Linked DNA regions of Homo sapiens: all the other regions are linked to region 2. The links come from fine-mapping of genetic effects on gene expression. A gene starts in region 2. Each other region holds a variant in brackets. All regions are shown on one strand. Distances are between the middles of the regions.

What was found. PIP is the estimated chance that this variant, and not a neighbour inherited with it, causes the effect. A credible set is the group of variants that fine-mapping cannot tell apart.
Region 1: its variant is the best candidate, but not a certain one, in a credible set for the expression of AFF3 in prostate (GTEx, PIP 0.58).
Region 3: its variant is the best candidate, but not a certain one, in a credible set for the expression of AFF3 in T cells (TOPMed, PIP 0.83).

The regions. Positions count from the first base shown.
Region 1 is chr2:99,907,624-99,911,623 of GRCh38, forward strand. All of the region lies in intron 7 of AFF3 (ALF transcription elongation factor 3), which reads right to left. Among named protein-coding and RNA genes, the nearest start is that of AFF3, 230 kb to the right of the region's middle. The variant T/C (reference allele first, on the strand shown) is at 2,353.
Region 2 is chr2:100,140,597-100,144,773 of GRCh38, forward strand. AFF3 (ALF transcription elongation factor 3) reads right to left here and starts at 1,994. Exons shown (of 25, transcript NM_001386135.1): 1 at 1,888-1,994.
Region 3 is chr2:100,227,915-100,232,091 of GRCh38, forward strand. All of the region lies in intron 1 of LINC01104 (long intergenic non-protein coding RNA 1104), which reads left to right. Among named protein-coding and RNA genes, the nearest start is that of LINC01104, 22 kb to the left of the region's middle. The variant A/G (reference allele first, on the strand shown) is at 1,872.

The DNA.
Region 1 (4,000 bases), 230 kb before region 2:
GTTTTTTTCTTCTTGTTGTTGTTTTGTTTTTTTTAGATAGGGTCTCACCCTGTCACCCAGGCTGGAGTACAATGGCACGATCCCAGCTTACTGCAACCTCCGCCTCCCAGGTTCAAGCGATCCTCCCACCTCAGTCTCTCGATTGCAGGTGTGAGCCACTGTGCCTTGCTGGAATGCTACTCTTAATATAAAACAAATACTATGTTTACTAACCACATTCATTCTTGGGTTCACTGTATCCTTTTTGTCCCACTAGAGTCTACCTTCTGATTCTCCCCTTCCAAGCAAAGAGAATCTTGATCCTTTACTGTCAGTCTTGATTCGAGTGAATGAGTACTGGCCTATGACCATGGGATGCGTACAAATTATCTGGTCTTTAACAAAACTGTCTGCCTGATGCTTGTTTCCATTCAGGTGGCTTATGCTTGCCCAACTTTCTCCTATTTCATAAATTTTAATCTGTTTTGGCTATGTCACCTCCTGCCTATTGGTCTAAACCAATAACTGGTCACCTATTTGCCACTGAACATAGTTTTCAACTTTTCACTCATGTCATTGATCAAGAGATGAATAAAAATAACCTTTTTTTGGAATAGGTGGGGAAAGAATTCCCTATTTAATAAATGGTGCTGGGAAAACTGGCTAGCCATATGTAGAAAGCTGAAACTGGATCCCTTCCTTACACCTTATACAAAAATTAATTCAAGATGGATTAAAGACTTACATGTTAGACCTAAAACCATAAAAGCGCTAGAAGAAAACCTAGGCAATACCATTCAGGACATAGGCATGGGCAAGGACTCATGTCTAAAACACCAAAAGCAATGGCAACAAAAGCCAAAATTGACAAATGGGATCTAATTAAACTAAAGAGCTTCTGCACAGCAAAAGAAACCACCATCAGAGTGAACAGGCAACCTACAGAATGGGAGAAAATTTTTGCAACATACTCATCTGACAAAGGGAATATCCAGAACCTAAAATGAACTCAAACAAATTTACAAGAAAAAAACAAACAACCCCATCAAAAAGTGGACAAAGGATATAAACAGACACTTCTCAAAAGAAGACATTTATGCAGCCAAAAAACACATGAAAAAATGCTCATCATCACTGGCCATCAGAGAAATGCAAATCAAAACCACAATGAGATACCATCTCACACCAGTTAGAGTGGCGATCATTAAAAAGTCAGGAAACAACAGGTGCTGGAGAGGATGTGGAGAAATAGGAACACTTTTACACTGTTGGTGGGACTGTAAACTAGTTCAACCATTGTGGAAGTCGGTGTGGCGATTCCTCAGGGATCTAGAACTAGATCTAGAACTAGGAATACCATTTGACCCAGCCATCCCATTACTGGGTATATACCCAAAGGATTATAAATCATGCTGCTATAAAGACACATGCACACGTATGTTTACTGTGGCACTATTCACAATAGCAAAGACTTGGAACCAACCCAAATGTCCAACAATGATAGACTGGATTAAGAAAATGTGGCACATATACACCATGAAATAGTATGCAGCCATAAAAATGATGAGTTCATGTCCTTTGTAGGGACACGGATGAAGCTGGAAACCATCATTCTCAGCAAACTATCGCAAGGACAAAAAAACCAAACACCGCATGTTCTCACTCATAGGTGGGAATTGAACAAAGAGAACACATGGACACAGGAAGGGGAACATCACACACCGGGGACTGCTGTGGGGTGAGGGGAGGGGGGAGGGATAGCATTAGGAGATATACCTAATGCTAAATGATGAGTTACTGGAGGGAGGGGGGAGGGATAGCATTAGGAGATATACCTAATGCTAAATGACGAGTTACTGGGGGGAGAGGAGAGGGATAGCATTAGGAGATATACCTAATGCTAAATGACGAGTTACTGGGTGCAGCACACCAACATGGCACATGTATACATATGTAACAAACCCACACGTTGTGCACATGCACCCTAAAACTTAAAGTATAATAATAATAAAAAAAAAAGAAAAGAAAAAAGAAAAAGCGTTTCTCCACAGAGTGGAGAAGTTCTTTTGGGTCTCGGTATAGGCCATGTCAGCTGCACAGTGAAAACCAAGAATGTGGCATTCCTTGCAAAGAAAGGAGATTCATTTTGAAATTGCTTCTCAACTTTCACGTAAATTATGCCCAATATTTTAACACATTGACAATATGATCAGCTTTCTACTTCAGAATGTGCTGAGTTTTTTCCCTATCTTTATGCAGTTGTGAAGTACCTATGAAACCAAGTGGATAAACACAGTGTTATGGGCTGAATTATATTCTGCCAAAAGTTCATGTGTTGAAGTCCTAACCCCAGTTCCTCACAATGTGACATTA[T/C]TTGGAGATAGGGTCTTTACAGAGGTAATAAAGTTAAAAAGAGCTAAAAATAAATAAATAAATAACCTTCTTATGTATAGCCGCAGTATGTTCAATCTGAAATGAACTTTGAAATACAAAATGTACTGATTTGGATTGAAAAGAGCATTACTACAATGCTATCCCCTGCCTCAGAGACTATTCGCTAAATATTAATTCTATTAAAATGACCATTCAGGAGAAAAGCACTCTTAATACCTGATTTGAGAATAAGCATACTTCTGTTTAGACAATAATAGAAAACAATTCTCCCATTATTTATTCACTAAGCATTGGTAGTTAGCATTTTTATTGCTCATTTGTTTTCATTTCCAAGCAGATTTTTCAAAACTAGACTTGATTAATAATATACTATATTATGTAGTAGCATTTGGATATTATAAAACATTAAGGAAAGGTCTAGATAGAGGATACAAATATGTTCTTCCTCCACTGCTACTGTACTTCATTTTGATCACTGCATGTGCAAAGGTATGCATCAGAAACTTCTAGATGAAAACTGCTAATTATTACAAGGATGCCATAAACAATCTTGCCTTCTGCATCACTGTGTAATAGTGCAAACAGGAATAACATGTCTTGGACCAAAGTGTAAGGAAAACTGTGCTTCTCTAAGTTGCTAAGTTGATATTTAAGGACAATATGACTCTCAAAGCCCTTCGAGTTTCTCTTTTAACTTCAGCTGCTAGGAAGCTCAAATCCTGTCTACAGGCTACTTTTACTTACAATGTAATAATTGCATGAATTTTAACAAGTCACCTTACATTCTTTTCTAAAGAAGGACATAAGAATAGCATTGTAGTTTGGAAGGCTAAGATATATGTGATCATTTCGGGAGCTCTGACCAGCTTCGCTGTTTGGCTGGACAAATCACATAATTAGAGCTAACATTAGACACTTCTCCACATAGGAAATTAAGACTCTACAATGCCTTCCCTCTTATCCAAGCTCACTCTGATATTTGGTGAAGTTTAACTGAAGAATCTTAAAAGAAAGCTTTTACATAAATGCTAAGGAAGGCATAAAAAATGCTTCTGATTTGCGCACACATGCCGTATAATAACCCAGTGCAGTGTCTGAGTCAGAGCTGCTAGGGTGTGGGCTTCCTGGGGCGGAGCACCTTAGTCCATCTATTCTGTTAGTTGTCTGATGCTTTCCTTTTGACAATCGATTGACCTGTTTTGTAGGAAATGTGGCACTATGGGTCTTCATGATTTTGCATGATTAGCCGGGCATGGTGGCACATGCCTGTAATCCCAGCTACTCAGGAGGCTGAGGCAGGAGCATCACTTGAACCCAGAAGGTGGAGGTTGCAGTGGGCCGAGATCGTGCCACTGCACTCCAGCCTGGGCAACAGAGTGAGACTTCATCTCTGGAAAAAAAAAAAAAAAGAAAGAAAATGCACTTTTTATGCTGAGGGACAGGCAGTGCAAAGGATGTGAGTCTGGCTGCTGTCGCAGGTTCTGACCCCTTTGACATGGAAAAATTCCAAGTAGGAAGGTTCAGTAGTCATTTGGGGTTTCCAGTGCCCTAGGACTCATACTGAACTTTACTGATCAACACTTGAACTGCACAGAAATGCAGCTTGTAAATGCAGGTATTATGTATT
Region 2 (4,177 bases):
GTGTGTAAAATGCCGAGCACCACGTCTCACACCTGAGAGGCACTGAATGCATGTTATATACTATCATTTGGATGTCACCGTTCCATGTGCCTATTTCCTGGTTTGCTGTACAAGATGTGTATGAGTACATGTCATCAAGCCCACAGAGCTCCAGAACATGTTCCTCTCACAAGCAGGCCTCATAGGGAGGGGTGTTCTGTGCTGTTCCTCTTTCCTGCTCACTACTTGTCTGTAGCTACAGTGTAAGGACTGTAATGTCACTGCTCTGGCCTTAAGTGTCACCCCCCAAACCCATTTTACACACACCACCTCCCACCTTTCACCTTTCCCAAACTCTTACCATGTCCCTTCAAGTTTGATGGCTTAATTGTACAAAAGGTAGTGATGATGATGATGATGATGATGACAATGATAACAGCTGCTAATACTTACTGAGCCCTTTCAATGTTCCAGGCACTTGTCTAAGCACTTTACATGTATTAGCTTATTTAATTCTTAAGAGGAAGGGATTACTATCTACTATTGTACTTGTGTTACAGATGTGGGAACTCCGATGCAGAGATGTATAGTGACTTGCCTAAAACCATCATGTTAGAGTGGGAATTTAAACCTTGAAATCTGGAAAATAAGCAATGTATATATTTTTCTATTTTCTAAATGCAAATCAAATATACATATGCATAACACCACTAAACACTAAGTGCAGTTACGCCTAGAACAAGGGAATAGCAGTTGACAGAAACACAACCAAAACTAAGAATATTAAATGTCTGTATTACTTTCACTGTAATCACTTCACTTCAACAGTGAGATGGGATAGCCCTAGGTAAAGGAAGGTGCTCTTGTAGTTAGAACATTCTTAAATTTTGCACCAAGGAACACATGCTTTTAATAATGGCAGAGACAACATTTTTTGATGGATTATTTAGTTTGTACGATCAACATTCAAAGAATGAGTTTACCACCACTTTGTTATTGTAAACACTTGACCTTTAGCTACCTGAATGATCCCCTCTTTGAATAAAAGGAATTATGAAACACATGTGTAGACATATTTCATTTTTATATATGTGAGACTCGAATAGCAAGGAAATCACATATTAGGAAAAAAACCCCTTTGTCTTGCTATTAGTTCTCTTTGGTTTCAAAAATCTGGTCACTGTGTATATTGCATTATATCATATGTGTGTGTACATATATATACACACATAAACACACATACACACAATGTCATGTGTATAAATACATGATGTGTTTATGCACATACACAGACACACACACACAAATACACACATATACAATGTTCCATCCAAGAAATACAAATATAGTGCTGTTAGCCCCTAACAGTGAGGAGGTCATTATTCCAAGTCATTTCTGCAGAAGTGACGGTGGCCTTAGGTGGAACTGCCCATGATCTCTCCTTGCAAGCTCACTCACTGGGGCCATTGACTGGGATCCAGTCTGTGGCCATGTCATGGTTTCTATTTTTGAGGTTATAGCTAATGAGCAACATGAGGTTAAGACACACTTTTCATAAGGCCCCAGCCAGCATCATAAATATGTGTGTGAGCATGTTCACACTCAGGTTATGTCTTCTTTATGTGCACCCTCTACCACACACACACACACACATGCACACGCACACACACTGACGGCTTCAGTGACCAACTTTGGTCACATCCCATCTCTTCCTTCTCAATCCCTCTGGCTGTTCACCAGGGCCTGGACCATCTCGGTGAGGCTGACCAAGAATGCTCCCCCTGCCCTGACCAGCGGAGCATGGGCACAGCTACTTAGAGCGCCACCCTTCAGGACACAAAGTCGGGGCTACCTCTCTTCCAGGCAAGGCATCCTAGAGGGCCCGCACACCCTCCAGTTTGATCTTACCTCTCAGCTCCCGTTCCTTTTCTTTCTCTCCCCAGTAAGTCGTTGAACGTCTTTCTTCTGAGGCTGAGCGTGGAGCTCTCTTCTCGCTGGCGAGCTTTCTGAATGGCACTTTCTGTACAAACAGGAAGAGCATGTGTGGTCACAACCCAAGTGTGCAGGTGTTGATAGAGGATGTGAAAGTGTGGAGGCGAGTGACTAAACCAGATACCCAACCGGCCAACTCTCACTTGTGGCAGGGCCTGGTCTACCAGAAGGCTGGAAGCAGGAACCTGGACTCTACTCTGGGGAGACCAACTGACAAAAGCAGAGGATGGTGGCCCTGGAGGCCAAGGGAGAAGGTCTCTTTGACTCCTGTGCTTTCTAACCCTATGCAGACCCATAAAAGAATCCCAGGAACATTTTGGAATCTCTTAGATATATGATTATCAAGAATGTTGATTTCAATGGGCTGCTTAACTTGTCCAAAGCTCTGCTGGTTTCCCAGGCTGTCTGGGCCTCCAAGAGATCAGGACCAAAGGCTCATCCTGCATTGGAACTGTGACAAGTCTTCCAGACCTTTCTAGAACAAAGCTACACCAGGAAAGAAGAGTCTTAGGCAAGGAATCAGATGTCCTAAGGCTGCTCTACATGACCTACATGATGGGTGTTACCTCCTCATCTCCCATTCAGTCAACCCACGGGCACTGGACTTCCTGCCCGACACCCTTCCCTCTCCCCATTCATGCCTGGAATTATTTTCACTAATGACACCAGGGATTCACTAATGGATGCTTTTTCAGTTCCTGTCCTATTTGTCTCCACTGGCAGTGTTTGACTTCCCTGTAGTGTTGACCATTTCTTTCCTCCCAGAACTTCTGCCTGGGCCGCCATGACTCCATACTCTCCTGGTTTTTGTCAGGCGGTCTCTCACACTGGCAGGCTTCCATTCTTTGGTCTTAATTTTCGCCCTCCTGCAAGCTCCACTCTCCGCCTCATGGTTCCTGTTCTCCATGGGTGGCCTCTTCCCAGCTCCAGATGGAACTTGCCAAGCCCACATCCATAGCATCACACATTTCTGCTGTTCTCCTGGAACATCCCCCAGCACCTCCCGTCAGACTCGCCACAATGAAACCCTGCTCTGTCCTCTACCCCACTCATTACTTACCATGTGGCCTGTGAATTCCCTCCTGCCTTGTCCCAGCTTGCTCCTCAGGTCTCTACCCCCTTCTGAGTTTACCACCTTCTGATCTCTCACTTTGCCTCTGCTAATCTGGCTTCTTCAGGTTTGACCCTCCATTATCCTCATCCAAACAGGCCCGTCCTTATCCTGAGAATGGATACCTAGAAACTTCCCCACCCAGTCCTATCCCAAGCCCTGGGAAATTATCCCAGTATTGTCTGCCTCATGTCCCTGGCAAGGAGAAAACGTTTCTTTATCTTATACCCAAACCAGAAATGGGGAGGCTTCCCACGTTCTTCTCTTTGCTGAATACTCTTCAACCTTCCATCACCAAGCCCTGCCCATTCTACCTCTTCAGTCACTCCTCAGATCCTTCTTCCCGTCCGCATCTCCACAGCCACACCCTCCCTCCATTGCCTCTCATCACTGCCCTAATCCCCAAGGGGTACGTGCACCCAGGGCACACCAGACCGTTCACTGAAGGATGAGAAGAAAGGAATTGAATGTCTATCTACCCACACTTGTCTGGTTTTTGTATTTAATTAAGACTCACATACCATAAAATGAGCCGTTTTAAGATGGGGAATCCTGTGGCATTGAGTACACTCACAATGCTGTGCAGCCACCACCTCCATCGAGTTCCCAGACTTACATCTATTTTTACGTCATGTTTTTAGTGTTTACATTTTGTGTATGTTTCAAGGCATGCAATGTGTGAATACAGTTGTATTGTATATCATTTGTGAATAATCATACATCTGCTCAGAATAGGCGGCAAAGACTTTTTTGCTGAAGAAGATACAAAATTAGAAAAGTGGGGACACGTGACCTCCTAACTCATCTCTCACATGTCAGGCTCTAGAGTGTTTTCCAAACTGCCTCCAAATTTTCTCTGCAAAAGACTACAAAAATGATGACAGTACACTCCCCTCACCCCACGACCAGTCCTTAAACGCTTCAATGGCTCCCTGTCACCCACAGGAAAATCCCAAGGCTCCATCGCTGGGCAGGCGAGATGTTGGATTCAGTGGCCTCTGCCCACTCCCCAATACCATCTCTTGCCATCCTTGATACCACTTCCTTCCTCACCACCCAACAATCCCACCACCACTCATGGTTTCTTGAACTTTC
Region 3 (4,177 bases), 87 kb after region 2:
GTAAAAAGTTACCCATTGTACCAAGAATCAGGAAAATCACAACTTGAAAGAAAAAAGACCATCAGTGGATGCCAATACTGACACGAATCAGATGTTGAAAGTATTTAACAAGTATTTAAAAGTAGTCACTGTAAAACTGCTTTAACAATGAATTACAAATTCTGTTGACACAAATGGAAAAATTAAAATCTCAGAAAATAAGTAGAAGCTATAAAAAAGAAACAATCAGAAATTATAGAAGTGAAAAATCCAATAACTGAAAAATATTAAAGGTATTACATGGGCTCAATAGTACAGTGGAGCTGAGTGAGGCTAGAACTGATAAACTTGAGGAAGGACTCGTAGGCTTCACCCAATCTGAGCAACAGAGAGAAAATAAACTGAAAAACAAAAGAACAGAGCTTCAGGGACCTGTGTGAAAATAACAACAAAAAAAATCCAACATTTGTAACATCAGGGTCCCAGAGGATTCTGTGGCTGAAAGAGAATTCAAAGAAAGAACGGCTGAAAACTTCTCAAATTTGGCAAAAAGACATAAACCTACAAATTCAAGAAGTTGAGTGAATCCCAAACAGGATACATCCAAAATAATCCATGCCAAGACACATCAAATTAAAGTTCTGAAAACATAAAGACCAAAAAGAATTCTTGAAAGCAGCCAGAGGATAATGACACATTACCTATGGGGAAACACCAGTTTGCGTGACAGTGAATTTCTCTTCCTCTGAAACCCTGGAGACCAGAAGAAAGTGACACATTTTTCAAGCTCTGAAAGGAAAAAAAAAAATACCTGCCAGCCACAAATTCTACATTTGGCAAAACTATCCTTCAGGAATAAATAGTAAATAAATCTATTGTCAGATGACAGGACACCAAAAGATTGTGCGGTTAACAGACCTAATTTCAGAGAATGGCTAGAGCAAGTTTTCAAACAGAAGGGTAATGATGAAAGAAAGAATCTTGAGCATCAGGAAGCAAATACAATGGAAAGAGAAAATATATGGGTACATACGATAGGCTATCCTATTCCTTATGAGTGTCATCAATCATATTTGATTGAGGGAATCAAAATTACAAGACCAGTTCTCACTTGAGTCAATGAGGGGAAGGTAAAGGGGCCTGAATGGCAGTAAGGTTTTCACATGCCACTTGCAGTGGTAAAATGTTGATAGTAGTAGACAGCAATAAGTCACATATGTTCACTGTAATACCCAGAGCAACCACTGAACAGGCTATTCAAAGAGATACACTCAAACACATTATAAACACATCAAGATGGAATTCTAAAACTTGTGCAAGTAATCTATAGGAAGGTAAAAAAAAGAAACAGAAATGAGAATCATAGGAAAGTTACAAGAAACAGAAAATAAAATCGCAGGCTTAAGCTCTAACATATCAATAATTACCTTACATGTAAGTAGTCTAAACATACTAATTAAAAGGCAGAGATTAGTTTAGTAGATTAAAAACTGTGTGTCAACTATATGTTGCTTTTAATAAATTATTTCAAATTCAATGACAGGTACATCGAAAGCAAAAGTATAGAAAAAGATAGATGCAAGCAATAATACAAAAACAGAGGTAGCTGTATTGATATATGATTAAGTGGATCTCAAAGAAAATTACTTGGGACAAACAGGGATATTACATAATAATAAAAGAATCAATCCACTAGGAAAAATAACAATCCTAAATGTGTGCACACCGAGTAACGGAGCCTCAAAATCCATGAAGCAAAACTAATAAAACTGAAAGGAAAAATAAACAATTCCACAGTTGTAGTTGGATATTTCATCAGCTTCCTCTCAGCAACTGATAGAATTTCTAGAAAGAAAATTAGCTAGAAGACAGAAGATCTAAACAATGCAATT[A/G]GCCAATAGGATCTAATTGATACATATAGAACATTCCACCCCATAACAACAGAATATCAATTTTTTTCAAGGGCGTTCTGAAAACATACACTATCCTGGACCATAAAACAAACCTCAAAAAGTTTAAAGAGATTTGGCCAGGTGCAGTGGCTCACACCTGTAATCCCAGCACTTTGGGTGGCCGAGGTGGGCGGATCAAAAGGTCAAGAGATCGAGACCATCCTGGCCAACATGGTGAAATCCTGTCTCTGCTAAAAATACAAAAAATTAGCTGGGCGTGGTGGCGGGCACCTGTAGTCCCGGCTACTCAGGAGGCTGAGGCAGGAGGATCGCTTGAACATGGGAAGTGGAGGTTGCAGTGAGCCAAGATCATGCCACTGCACTCCAGCCTGGCGACAGAGCTAGACTCCATCTCAAAAAAAAAAAAAAAAAAGAAAGAAAGAAAAAAGTAAAGGGATTCAAATCATACAGATTATGTTCTCTGACCATAATAAAATCAAACCAGAACTCAGTAAGGTAAGGAAGTCAGGAAAATCTCTAAACACTTGTAAATTAAACAACACACTTCTAAATAATCCATTGGTCAAGAAGTAAGTTCCAAAGGAAATTTTAAAATATACACAGAACTGTGTAAAAATGCCACCACATTTTAAAAGCAGCCCTTGAAAATAAAAGTTTTTATAATGTGGACCTATAAAATAATTTAAATATGTTTTATTGTGTGATTTAAATATTGGATTGTCAATACACAGCTTGTCATCTTTTAAATCAAAATTGTAGAATGCTGCTTTGACTTCCACAGTTTTAAGAGGTTATAGAATACTACATATTCCTTTATAAAAATGGCATAATTTATTGAGAAGAGCCTATCTCTTATTTCACATATCCCAGGGACTGTGGTGGCAGGCAGGGAGCATGTGGTTGGGGTATAGGCCATGTTGCTCCTTTTCCTCTGCTCAGCTTTTAAAAGTCAGGGCCTTCCTCTTCTCCATTCACACTCTCTCCCCAAGGTCTCCTCCAGTTCCACAGCTTTAAATGCTGCCATGTGTCAACAAGTCTCCATTAGATGACTTTGGCTCTGGACTCCAGAGGCACTCATCCAACTGCAAGCTTGATGTGTCCTCCTGGATGGGCATCTCGCCCACCCACAGCAGGGCTCTCCATTTCTCCTCAAACCTGTATCTCCCTCATTCAGCCAGTCATTCAAGCTAGAATCCTGGCAGCCATCCTAGATTCCTCCTGTTTCCTTACATCCGTTTCATATCCATAACACACATCAGCAAGCTCTGTGGCCCCCACTGCTGTCCATTCCTCTCCTCTCCACCTCCCTCCATCCCTTCCAGCCAAACTGCCTGATACTGTTTGGCTCTGAGTCCCCACCCAAATCTCATCTTGAATTTTACTCCCATAATTTCCACGTGTTGTGGGAGGGACCCGATGGGAGATAATTGAATCATGGGGGTGGTTTTCCCCAAACTGTTCTCGTGGTAGTGAGTAAGTCTCACGAGATCTGATGGTTGGATAAGGGGAAACCCGTTTTGCCTGGTTCTCAATCTCTTTTTGCCTGTCCCCATCTATGTAGGATGTGGCTTGCTCCTACTTGCCTTCTGCCATAATTGTGAGGCCTCCCCAGCCAAGTGGAACTGTGAGTCCAGTTAAACCTCTTTCTTTTGTAAATTGCCCAGTCTCAGGTATGTCTTTATCAGCAGCGTGAAAACGGACTAACACACCGCCATCTTTCTGGTCTCCAGGAACGCAGCAGCCTCCCACCTGCCCTCCTTGCTGCTGCTCTCCTCTCCCTGCAATCCACCCTCCACACAGAAGGAAACCTTTTAAAACATGTAAAGCAGATGACGCTACTCCCTGCTTACAAATTTCCAGTAGCTTCCCATCACACTTAACACTTGTTTATTCATTTATTGTGTTTCCTTCACCAAGAATGTGTATTCCATCAGAGCTGATTCCTTTCTGTCTGGTTCACTCCAGTCCTCTCAGGACCTGGCCCTTAATGAGGGATTCCATAAGTATTTGTTGAATAAACAAATAAATAAACAGGGTTTGAGGAGGGCAGCAACAGCCAGGATCATGAAATAAACTATTTTGGGAACCTGTATCAATGTACAATGACATGACTGTTATTCACGTATATAATCTGATCACAACAATGTAAAAATAATGTGTGTATAGAAAGTGCCTGGAAATTAATAAAAATGTCAGCAACGTTTTCTTTAGATGGTGGGCTTATGAGTGATTTTCCTTTGTCTTTCCTCTAAAATTGTATTCTCTAGGATTAGCATGAATATGTG